Regions from separate parts of the Homo sapiens genome. Here region 2 is linked to region 1. Evidence: fine-mapped expression QTL. A gene starts in region 1. The other region holds a variant in brackets. All regions are shown on one strand. Distances are between the middles of the regions.

Region 1 (5,391 bases):
AACAAACTTATATGGGAACATATTTATCAAGTAGGGAAGAGTGCAAGAAGGGGAGGAATGTCTGCTTGAAGCCAGCAGCCTGGACTTAGGTGTGCCCCAGCTCTTCCTAAAAGAAAGCTTCCTCAACCTGGTTTCAGAGGCCAAAGCTTTCCAATACCAGACGGTGATATACCTAAGGGGACTGGAAAATGAGATCTAGGCAGGACTGGAGACAGCACTTGTGGGACCCAGTGCAACGCAAAAATGAGGCGCCTTTGTTAGAAAGTGACGAAGAATTTCCAGAGATTGAAAGCAAAGCAAGAAACCAGGGCCCTTTTGAGTGTGGGCCCATGCGCCTGCTCAGGAAGCCAGCCCTGGGTGTAGGATAGTTGTATAATAGGGAGCAGTTAAGCTCCTATCTAGGTCTTAATGCACACACATATTAAAAAGACTTCTCCATCATCCCCTGAAGCTATTTTAAATAAGGCATTGATTATCTAGGCTTTCCAAATAGGTATTTCTGCCCTCCACCCTGAAGATTTTCAGTATAGAAAGTTTCAAACATATACAAAAGTAGAGAGTACCCGCATGTACCCATCACACAGCTTCAACAATCATGCACACAGGACCAATCTTATTTTATCTTCTTTTTTTTTTTTTTGAGACAGAGTTTCTTTCTTGTTGCCCAGGCTGGAATGCAATGGCACAGTCTCAGCTCACTGAAACCTCCACCTCCCAGGTTCAAGCGATTCTCCTGCCTTCGCCTCCCAAGTAGCTGGAATTGCAGGTGCCCGCCACCATGCCCGACTAATTTTTTTGTATTTTTAGTAGAGATGGGGTTTCACCATGTTGGCCAGGCTGGTCTTGAACTCCTGACCTCAGGTGATCTGCTCGCCTCAGCCTTCCAAAGTGCTAGGATCACAGGCACAAGCCACTGTGTCCAGTCTTATTTTATCTTCTTTCCCCGTTCATTGCTACAATCCCTCATTTAGGTTATTTTGAAGCAAATTTACATAGGGAATTTTTAAAAACAATTGTTTTCAGCTGAAAGCATCAGCTCTCCAGAGCCCACTGTCTGTCTTTCTATGTTCTAAGTTAGGGTGGAATAGATAGCACCTCTTCCCTTCTACTAATTTCCACTGCTTCTATCAACAAAAGTCAGACCCAAGGCTCATAGCTGTTCTTCCAAACTCATCCTGGAGGAAAAGAATTATTGATAGCATGCTCTTTCATACCTTTCTCTACTGTAAAGGAACCTGCCTGAGGCTCAGAAATCCTAGCTTTATCCTCTAACTCAAGTCAAGTAACTTTTGATCCCTGGTGATCTTGCTGTCTTCAACTAACCCAGAACCTTAATCCAGATTCTCTTCTATAGATTCTCTTACATGATTCTCTATAAATTCTCCTCTATGAGGCAGAGAGAGGCCCCAAAAGGTAACTCATTCCTTCCTTCCTTCAGGAAAAGCTTAGGCATGCTGCTAGGTACTGGGACTACAACAATAGTCAAGACAGGGTCTCTGCATTCAAGCTTAGAGTCCAACGGGGAGTACAAACATGAAACAAATAATTATAACAGTGATAAAGTGTTAGTCCAAACTGCACCATTTCGTAACCCCCACCGACCCCCGCCATTTTGCAGACCTTGGCTAAAGTGAAGCATTCCACGGGGGTTTGGGCCCTTAGAAACAGCCTGTCCAACTGCCTCCCTGACTTTATCACACTCTGCTGGGAAAAAGTCCAAGGAACATCAGCATCACATTCTGCGGGAACAAGGGCCAAAATGCCTCATTATGGGAACATCTTCCCAGGCAGCAAGCCATACTGCCCAGACCCGTCCTGCTCATACCTACAAGTACCCCAACCTGTACGAAGCAGTGGGCACTGGCATTAAGCTAGTCCCCCACCTCTGTAGGTCTTATGCTAGACAGAAAGCCTGGATTTGATGTAGAGCCGCCACTCTCTCTTTCTTTAACCCTCACCTTCCTTTCAAAATGTAACAATAAGTACATCTATTCTAGATTTAGCATTCAGTGGTATATAAAACAAAGTTGTTCAAGAGAGCTGAGCAGAGAAGCAGCGAGAAATGGAAGCTACCAGATCTTTGCCACTCAATCCTCCATAAGTTCTAGTTTTATATCAGGTGGATGCCTCACTGCATCCATCTTCTCAGCTTGGCCACCCCCTTGCTACCAAGTTGCAGCTCAAAACGCAGCTTTCTACTGTCTCTTGATCTCTTTACTCTGCCCATATCTGTGTAAACTCTCCTCAGTTACCCATTTGAGTTTGCCACCTGTTTCCTGCTAAAACCATGTTGATAAAGGTCTGTATGAAAAGACTATTTACAGAAGTGGGCAAGGTTAAGGAAACAAACAAACAAAAAAAGAGATAAGTTTGGGCATCCAGATTTTAGTAACAGCAGGAAACCATTATCATCCCTAGGCCTAAGAGGGCAGGGGGAGAAAAACATATTACCATAGCATGGATGAGAGCTGGAGCCATGGAAGAGAGGACACCCAACAGAAGCTCTGTCATGTAGACTCAGCCAGTGTCAACTGTGGCAGGAAGGGAATAGGAAGAACAAATATTCCAGTCTCGCTCTCTTTCTCCCCATTCCTCCCTTCCCTCTTCCTCTCTCTCTTTCTCTCTTCTCCCCTCCAATCCTGTATAAACCCAATCTGAAGCCAAATCCAGCCAGCATTCAGGTGATAAAGTCAACAGAGGTCAACCTTCCAGGGTACAGATCAGAGCCAAGAAAGGCTGATTTAGAAAGCCAAACAGAAAACAATCAACAATTACATCTCATTGTCAAAAACACTTTTAAAAGACAGTAGATATCTTTTAAACTTTATTACAAAAAATATGTGCTTTTTGGTAATACTTTTTTTTTTTTTTTAAAGATAGGGCAGATAGCCCCAACACACTACCCTGCACACAGAAAATAATCATTGGTCTTCACTAGTGAAATAAGCAGTGGGTTGCTAAGGGCCAACTTGCCTGAACAGGCTACACAAGAACCTCAGAGCCCAACCCATTGTGAAGAAACATGGGTTACTTCTGAGGTTCTAGAATTCCCAGAAGCTCTGCTTCAGCACTGGAAGCTTTTGCTCGCAGTTTGCTTCATAGCTCTGTGAAGAAGCTGTGGCCCACACTGGGGTCCCCTCTTTTCCTAAATCCAGATGAACAGGTTTCTCTTGCTAATGAGTCTTTATCTGCTTGGATCTGCCAGAGGTGAGTGTTTGATCTAGGCTTCAGGTAAATACAAAAGGGGTCTCCCTTAAGACATTTCAGGCCTTGAAGAAGGAAGACCAGTCTCTCAGTCACCCAAACCAATCTGAGTCAGAATCAAGAGCAGCTAAACAAGTCCAACTCGGAGAGCTCCTGAACCAGTTGATTTCTCTAGTCATAGCTTTACAGTCAGAGGGTCCCACTGGCTTGGCACAGTCTGGTTTCTACTTATTTTAGCCACTCAACATTTATACCTGATGCTGCATGAGATGAAAAAGTAGGCTTAGGGGTTCTGTAGAAGCCCAATGAAGGTTTGTCCCACCAATTAAATGTGAGGGATCCTTGTGTGGTTAATGTGCCAAGGAAAGATGGGAGATGGGAAGATGTAATGTGTTCAGAAAACAACCTCAGAACACGACAGAGCTATAGGCCAGAGACTTCATAAGCCTCTTCTTCATGGCTGTGTTATATCAATCAGGTTTTCTGTATCATCTCTTCTTTTGGGATCCCCCATTCATGGTGTGCTGTGTTCCCTCCTGCCTCCTACAGCAGAAAGAGGCCATGAGCTCTGAGCTTTCAGTGAAAAAACAATGTATTTTCTATAATGTCGACTGTCAGAGGTTTTGCTTTTTGCTTTGTTAGACCTTCAAAAGTTGACTCAAAAATGTAGATACACAGCCACCAGGTGATAGTATGTGCCAGTCACATGGTGACACGAGTCATAAACTATAAGATCAAGAAATTAGCATGCTTTTTATGTCTCCTTTCTATATCAGAAACATCTCTTTATCAAAACTTGTGTTAATTATTGAAAAACCAGTCAAGTAGATAGTATTTATGTAATAAGTTTAAAAAATAAAAACCTCCTAAAAGCTTTACTAAATCTTACCTTTCCTTTATCAACATATTCTCACCCTAGTCATTTAGAAAGTCACTGATTGTAAGTACTGCACTGTGCCAAGAAAATATATCTATCGCAAGATTCTTAGAGTTTTGAGTACTCTGGGGTTTTAGACTACCTCAGCCTCAAAGATCCAATAATTCCTCTCAGCTTTTGGCTAGAATTAAATAACTTGGTTGTTGTAGTCTACTTGTCTTCCTCTAGGTGGCTCAGTTTAATCAAAGAGTAATAATCAAATTATCTGTTTTGTGCTTCTGTTCACTTAAAATATACTTAAGGAATATTTGTCTGACAGTCAATGATGAGATGGATTGGCCAGACACAGTGGCTCATGCCTGTAATCCCAGCATTTTGGGAGGCTGAGGCGGGCGGATCACTTGAGGTCAGGAGTTCAAGACCAGCCTGGCCAACATGGCGAGACCCTGTCTCTACTAAAAATACAAAAATTAGCCAGGTATGGTGGCATGCACCTGTAATCCCAGCTACTCGGGAGGCAGAGGCAGGAGGATCACTTGAACCCGGGAGGCGGAGGTTGCAGTGAGCCAAGATTGTGCCACTGTACTCCAGCCTGGGCAACAGAGCGAGACTCTATCTTTGAAACAAAAAAAAAAAAAGAAAGAGACGGATTAAAGGTAGAAGAGACTGGCCAGAAAAAAATAACCATGTAAGAGTTTTGTAATTCCCAGTGTAAGGTGGGAAGAAAAGAAAAATAAAATTGAGTACTAGGCAATGGTGCACTTCACAATTTATCTTATTAAGTACTCAGGACAACTCCATGAAGTGAATGTAAATGGTATGTCACAAGGATACAATTCATATATGTGTGTGTGTCTATATATATATATATATATAATATGCCTAGACTTTTTTTTTTTTACCTTAATAGCTTATAGCAACTTTGCTCTCTGAATCCCCAACCCACATGGATTGGGGATTGAGTGTGAGAAAATACTTGACATTACCAAATACAGGCGGCTTAATCCCTTCTGATAATTTTTGTGGGCTCATACTTGTCATCCCTGTCCAAAGGTTAACTCTTCCGCCCTTAATTTAGGTTACAAATACTCAGGTATTGAAAACTACTTGCTTTCTCTCTCCCTCTTCTATCTCTACTCTTCTTGTCTTTCACCCATAGAGGAATGGGAGGGTTGGTGGCGAACTTCTGATTCTATCAGGGATGGTATCCTGACTTCCTGATGCTGACTTTGTCAGGGAGGCACATTCATTTTCCTTCAGGGGTTTTTTGTACATGGATGAGTGGATTCTCCTAAGTAGTTCTTAATATT
Region 2 (5,391 bases), 24 kb after region 1:
TACAACACTTTAAAAAGTGAATTTTAAGCTATGTGAATATCTCAATAAAAACATTTTTTAAATAAAAACAATTCCCAAAGGCCTGGAAATTCAGAAACATAATTCAAAATAATTTATGGATCAAAAAATAAATCATATAAAGATCTGAGAACTACAATGTAAAAATATAGAAAAAAGTCATAACAATATTAGAAAAAAATTTGAGCTGGATAACAAAAATAGTACACATAAAAATTTGTGGCATGAAGAAAAATGGTACTTAGGAAATTTATAAAATGCCTATATGCAACATATAATTGACACAGGACTAGTATCTCGAATGTATTTATAGGATATGCAGAAAATAGAAGAAAGATCTGAAACTATCATAGCAATCAAACCCACAAATCTAGACTTAAGAAAATCATAGAGTAAACCAGCTGGATTCTTCAACCAATAAACTGCAAGAGAAAAAAAAGGGAATAAAGAGGGAACTTACAGACTAAAAGCAACTTAAAAGACATCAATCGATTATTATGTTTAAACTTTATTTGGATCTGATTCAATACAAAGTATAAAAAATAATTAAAACATTTGAGTACTTGATTGGATATCAATGAAGACTAGTGAAAAAAAATAATGATCTTTTCAATAACCAGTGCTAAACTGGATAGCCATATGAAGGAAAAAAATGAAACCTAATCTCTACCTCACATTCTACACAAAAGCCAATTTCAGATGAATTATAGACCTAAATCAGCCAAAAAACAGGCCAGGCAGACATGGTGGCTCACACCTGTAATCCCAGCACTCTGGGAGGCCAAGGCAGGATGATCACTTGAGCCCAGGCATTCGAAACCAGCCTCGGCAACACAGTGAAATCTGGTCTCTTCAAAAAATAAAAAATTTGCTGGGCATGGTGGTGCATGGCTATAGTCCCAGCTCAGAAGGCTGAGGTGGAAGGATCACTTGGGCCAGGGAGGCTGAGGCTGCAGTGAGCTGTGATTGTGCCACTGCACTCCAGCTTTGGAGACACAACAAGACTCTTAAAAAAAAAAAAAAAAAAAAAAAAAAGCAAAAGCCATGAAGCTTTTAAGAAGATTACATGATTACATACAAGAAAATCTTCATGATCTTGGAGTAATGAATGACTCCTTTAATACAAAATATAAAACAATAGACAGAGGAAAGGTCTAAATAGGACATTAAAATTACAAATGTTCATGAAGAATGGAACAATAAGCCGCAGAATGGGAGAGTATATATATTCAATACATGTAAATTGACAAAGGACTAGTATGCTGAACATATGAAGAACTGAAATTATTAAGAAAAAGAAAAGGCAATTAGAAAAATAAGCAAAAGACTAGAACAGGCATGTCATAAAATGCTCTACCTCATTTAAACTTAGGAACAAGCAAATTAACACCACACATATATCATTACACAGCAACAACTTGTTAAAACAGACTAGACCAGACTGGGCAACATGGTGAGACCCTGTCTCTACAAAAAATACAAAAGTTAGCCAGGTGTGGTGGCATGTGCCTGTGGTCCCAGTTACTTGGGAGGCTGAGGCAGGAGGATTGCTTGAGCCTGCAAGGCTAAGGCTGCAGTGAGTCATGTTTGTACCACTGCTCTCCAGCCTGGGCAGCAAAGTGAGGCCCTGTCTCAAAGGAAAAAAAAACATTAACAAAAACAAAAACAACAACTTATACTGACCACACCAACTGTAGGTGAAAATTTGGAATACTAGAAATACATTCTGTTGCTATGAACATTCTTATGCTTTAGATCATTCCAAACTGTTTTTCCAGTAACTGTACACTTTTCTCCTATGGAAACACTAATCTGTACAATCACTTTAGAAAACAGTTTGTCATTATTCTATCCTAATATCCAGCTATTCCTCTTCTGGATATATACCTTAGACTCTAGGACCTAGCAAAACAAATGAACATGTACAAGAATGTCCTTAGAAGAATTTTATAATAGCATCGAACTGTACACAATCCAAATATCAATTAGCAGCAGAATAGTTAGTGGGATGTTCATAAATACATCCTATATAAAAATTAAAATTAATGAATTCAATATGCACAAAAGCATGGCTATAAAAAATCAACACATGAAAAATACAGCAAAATGTATATAAAGTTCGTTAATAAAAACCATATTAATTAAAAATACATAAACTAAATGATATTATTTGCATAAATAGCTGAGAACACTCTAAAACACACGAAGGAAAAGATTATCACCAAAGTCTATTTTGTGATTATTTCTGGGGGAAAGAAGTGGGTTGTGATTGGGAGACTGCATATAGGAAGTTCTTAAGGGTCTGTAAATGATCTTTCTACAATTGAGTTGTGGTTAAGTGAATGTTAACTTTACAACTGCACATTGAAGTGTACATATTTTATGTATTTTTATATAATTATGCTTATCTCAACAACCACACACACTGTACACATTAAACACACACACACATATTTTTATATAATTATGCTTATCTCAACAACCACACACACTGTACACATTACACACACACACACACACACACACACACACA[A/CACACAA]GCATAGGTTGATTTTTCCATCAAAATTTGAACTGTTATCTTCAGGTAGTAAATTTTACACATTTTTATTTTTAATAATAGGAGTAAATACCTTCCCACAACAATATAATGAACATTACAGGAAAATTAAGGCAACTTATTATTTACAGAATGCCTTTCTGTGCAAAACAGGACACTATACTCTTCCTACACATTAAAGCATTAAAGATTAAAATAACTCTAAAAGGTACTTATTATCAGTGTCTTTACTGAGGCAATTACCAGTGTTCAGATAAATAAATGTCAGAGCTAATCCAAATATGAAACTTGAAATTTTCCCACCATTCTATACAAATTCCCACAGCAAACAGAGGAGGTTATTATTTTAGATAAGTCAGGGAAAGACTTTGCAGAGGAAGTAACATTTCTGAGATGGAGAAAACTAGGAGAGGAACAGGTTGGAGAACAGGAATCAAAAGCTGTTTTTGGTCAAGAGATGCCTACTAGACATTCAAGTGGAAATGTAAAGCAGGTAAAAGGTTAGAGCTTACAGAAGAGGTTCAAGTCAGTGAGAGCTGTTTTTGAAAAATATTAATGACTCAGATAATTCTCAAGAACAAAATTTCTCCCATATTTGAGAATTTATACTGATTCAATTCTTAAGCATACCGTAAATAGGTTCAAATAAATAAAACAGGTTTGAATTTATTCCTCCTATGGGTATACTCCAGTAACACAATTTGCCAGTATACATTAATATGTGATAAACTCTAATCATAACATTCTACATGTTCTTGGCTTCAGATTAAAATAACTGATTAATTTTATAATGTTTTACAATTTTAAAAATTTTTATTAGAGGTAGGGTCTTACTCTGTCATCCAAGCTGGAGTGCACTGGTGCAATCATAGCTCACTACAGCCTCAAACTTCCAGGTTCACGCGATCCTCCTCTCTCAGCCTCCTAAGTAGCTGGGACTACAGGCAGGAGCCAAGGCCTCAACCTAATATGCCCCAAAGTTGATACAAATTTTATTAGAAAAACAAACTTTTTGTAAGTCTAACAGGTAAAGGAACAAAGAATCAGATCTATTTTTCTTATAGCTTCCTTACTCTTCCCTTCCCTCTTTTATTCTTTATCACCTAAAAGCTTGGTCACCAGTAAGTTGAAAAGGTTAAAATATGGCTATGAAAGTAGAAAATATAGAAAAATATTTAAGATGTTCAACAGTAATTTTTAGAGTAAAGTTAGTTAAGCACTAGAGTTTATGCAACACTGTAAAATACAAGTATTTTACTAACTACACTGGAAAAAACACCTACTTGCAATTTTAATTAATCATTATAATTCAAAAACAGGTTTATATAACTGGCCAGGCCCTTTTGAAAATATAAGTACAAATCTTGGGGATATGTTTTGAAGCTGGCTTCGCTTCACAGACTGATAAATCTACTGTCCAAAAGTCACAAGAATTATGTCTTTATTGGTTCATCTTAGAATTAAATCAACATGGAATATGTACTTTTTGAATTAAACAAAATGTTTTGATAAAAATGAGATACGTGTGTATAAAAGCTGGAAAACTCATGTCCCCTGAAACTTGGTTTCCACCAGATGAGTTTCAAATTCAGATACTAAACACACATGAAGAAATAATCAAATGAATTCTATTCATCCTTTCCCCAAAGTTTTGCTTACAATTAAGATATAGGTATTATTTGTATGCCGAACAAACAAAATAAATTGGAAGATGTTTGGATAAACAGGGAAGTGAACACTTCAGGAACTACTATTTGCAGTTTGCAGGACAGGATAATCTTCTCTAGGAAGAATAATGTCAACATAGCAGCACTATATTCACCAGGATTCCCCAGAGCCGATGGTCCGATCATGTGGCAGGAAGCCAAATCTTCTGGCTGCTCACAATATCAATCAGCTTCCCTTTAATCTTCAGGAAGTGTCTCTTGAACTCCAATCCATCACCCTATATTAGAAATAGTATTAAAAAATTATGTCAAAACAAAAACAAAAACAAAATTCTGTCCTAAAATCAATCTCTTTGTAGTGGTAACAAGAGACAAACATCTTTAGGTATGTCTAGCTACCATTTTCTTTTCGGTCTGTTTATGAAGACCAAATATCCTGGAAGAGAAAATTGTTACACAAATAATTCTGATGTGGTTTCATGCCCATCACTGTTCCTACTGCACTGAGCTCAGAGAGCAGATAAACATGGCATCCTATCTGTTTCAGGTGTTGGTATATCTGGACCTAAGTCATTACATTCCATAGGCAGTGAGGGTTTGGAAACTAACAATAAACTATACAACTAAACTGAAGTCTTGTTGTCATAACACTACTGACCAAAATCAATAGATTTAGTTATGAGAAGAATTTCATTATACTACGATCTTAATTTAATTCTGTAGCAAGCATCTGAAAAACAGTATTGCAGCAAATCTCTAATACAAAGAGTACTGCGGCAAATGCTCTAACACAGCAGCTACCCCTCCAACCCTCTTTAGAGCCACATACAATCTCTCAGAAAATAGAGAAAAATGTTATTTTGGTTTTATATATCAAGGGCTGTAATACTATCATCTTAGAATCAATGATTTCTAAAGAAATCATCAGAAATATGAACAAAAAAATCTATGCATAAAATAGCAATCACAGAATTATTATAACTGGTAAAGGTTCATTAAATTATAATGAAATATTTGTAACAAATCATAATTTTTATTAAAAGACATAAATTAAGAAAAATATTAAAATGCTTCGAAATATTAATGTGATCACTGAAAATTTAGAATTATTTTTATTTTCTCATTTTTTGCTTATCTACATTTTTCACAAAAGCA

Alleles and levels. Positions count from the first base shown, and alleles are read on the strand shown. Sizes are in standard deviations (SD) of each study's normalised expression.
In carriers of allele CACACAA in region 2, the expression in lymphoblastoid cells of the gene that starts at base 3,089 in region 1 tends to be higher than with A alone (moderate effect, 0.42 SD a copy in GEUVADIS).

The links. PIP is the estimated chance that this variant, and not a neighbour inherited with it, causes the effect.
Region 2: its variant is the best candidate, but not a certain one, in a credible set for the expression of ACRV1 in lymphoblastoid cells (GEUVADIS, PIP 0.73).

What each region holds. Positions count from the first base shown.
Region 1 is chr11:125,678,545-125,683,935 of GRCh38, reverse strand. It overlaps ACRV1 (acrosomal vesicle protein 1), which reads left to right and starts at 3,089. Exons shown (of 4, transcript NM_001612.6): 1 at 3,089-3,207. The coding sequence starts at 3,156. It overlaps LOC105369551 (a long non-coding RNA gene), which reads right to left and starts at 617. Exons shown (of 2, transcript XR_007062934.1): 1 at 1-617. It also overlaps a transcript of CHEK1 not described here.
Region 2 is chr11:125,654,348-125,659,738 of GRCh38, reverse strand. CHEK1 (checkpoint kinase 1) reads right to left here. Exons shown (of 13, transcript NM_001114122.3): 13 at 2,592-4,514. The coding sequence ends at 4,419. Among named protein-coding and RNA genes, the nearest start is that of ACRV1, 24 kb to the left of the region's middle. The variant A/CACACAA (reference allele first, on the strand shown) is at 2,552.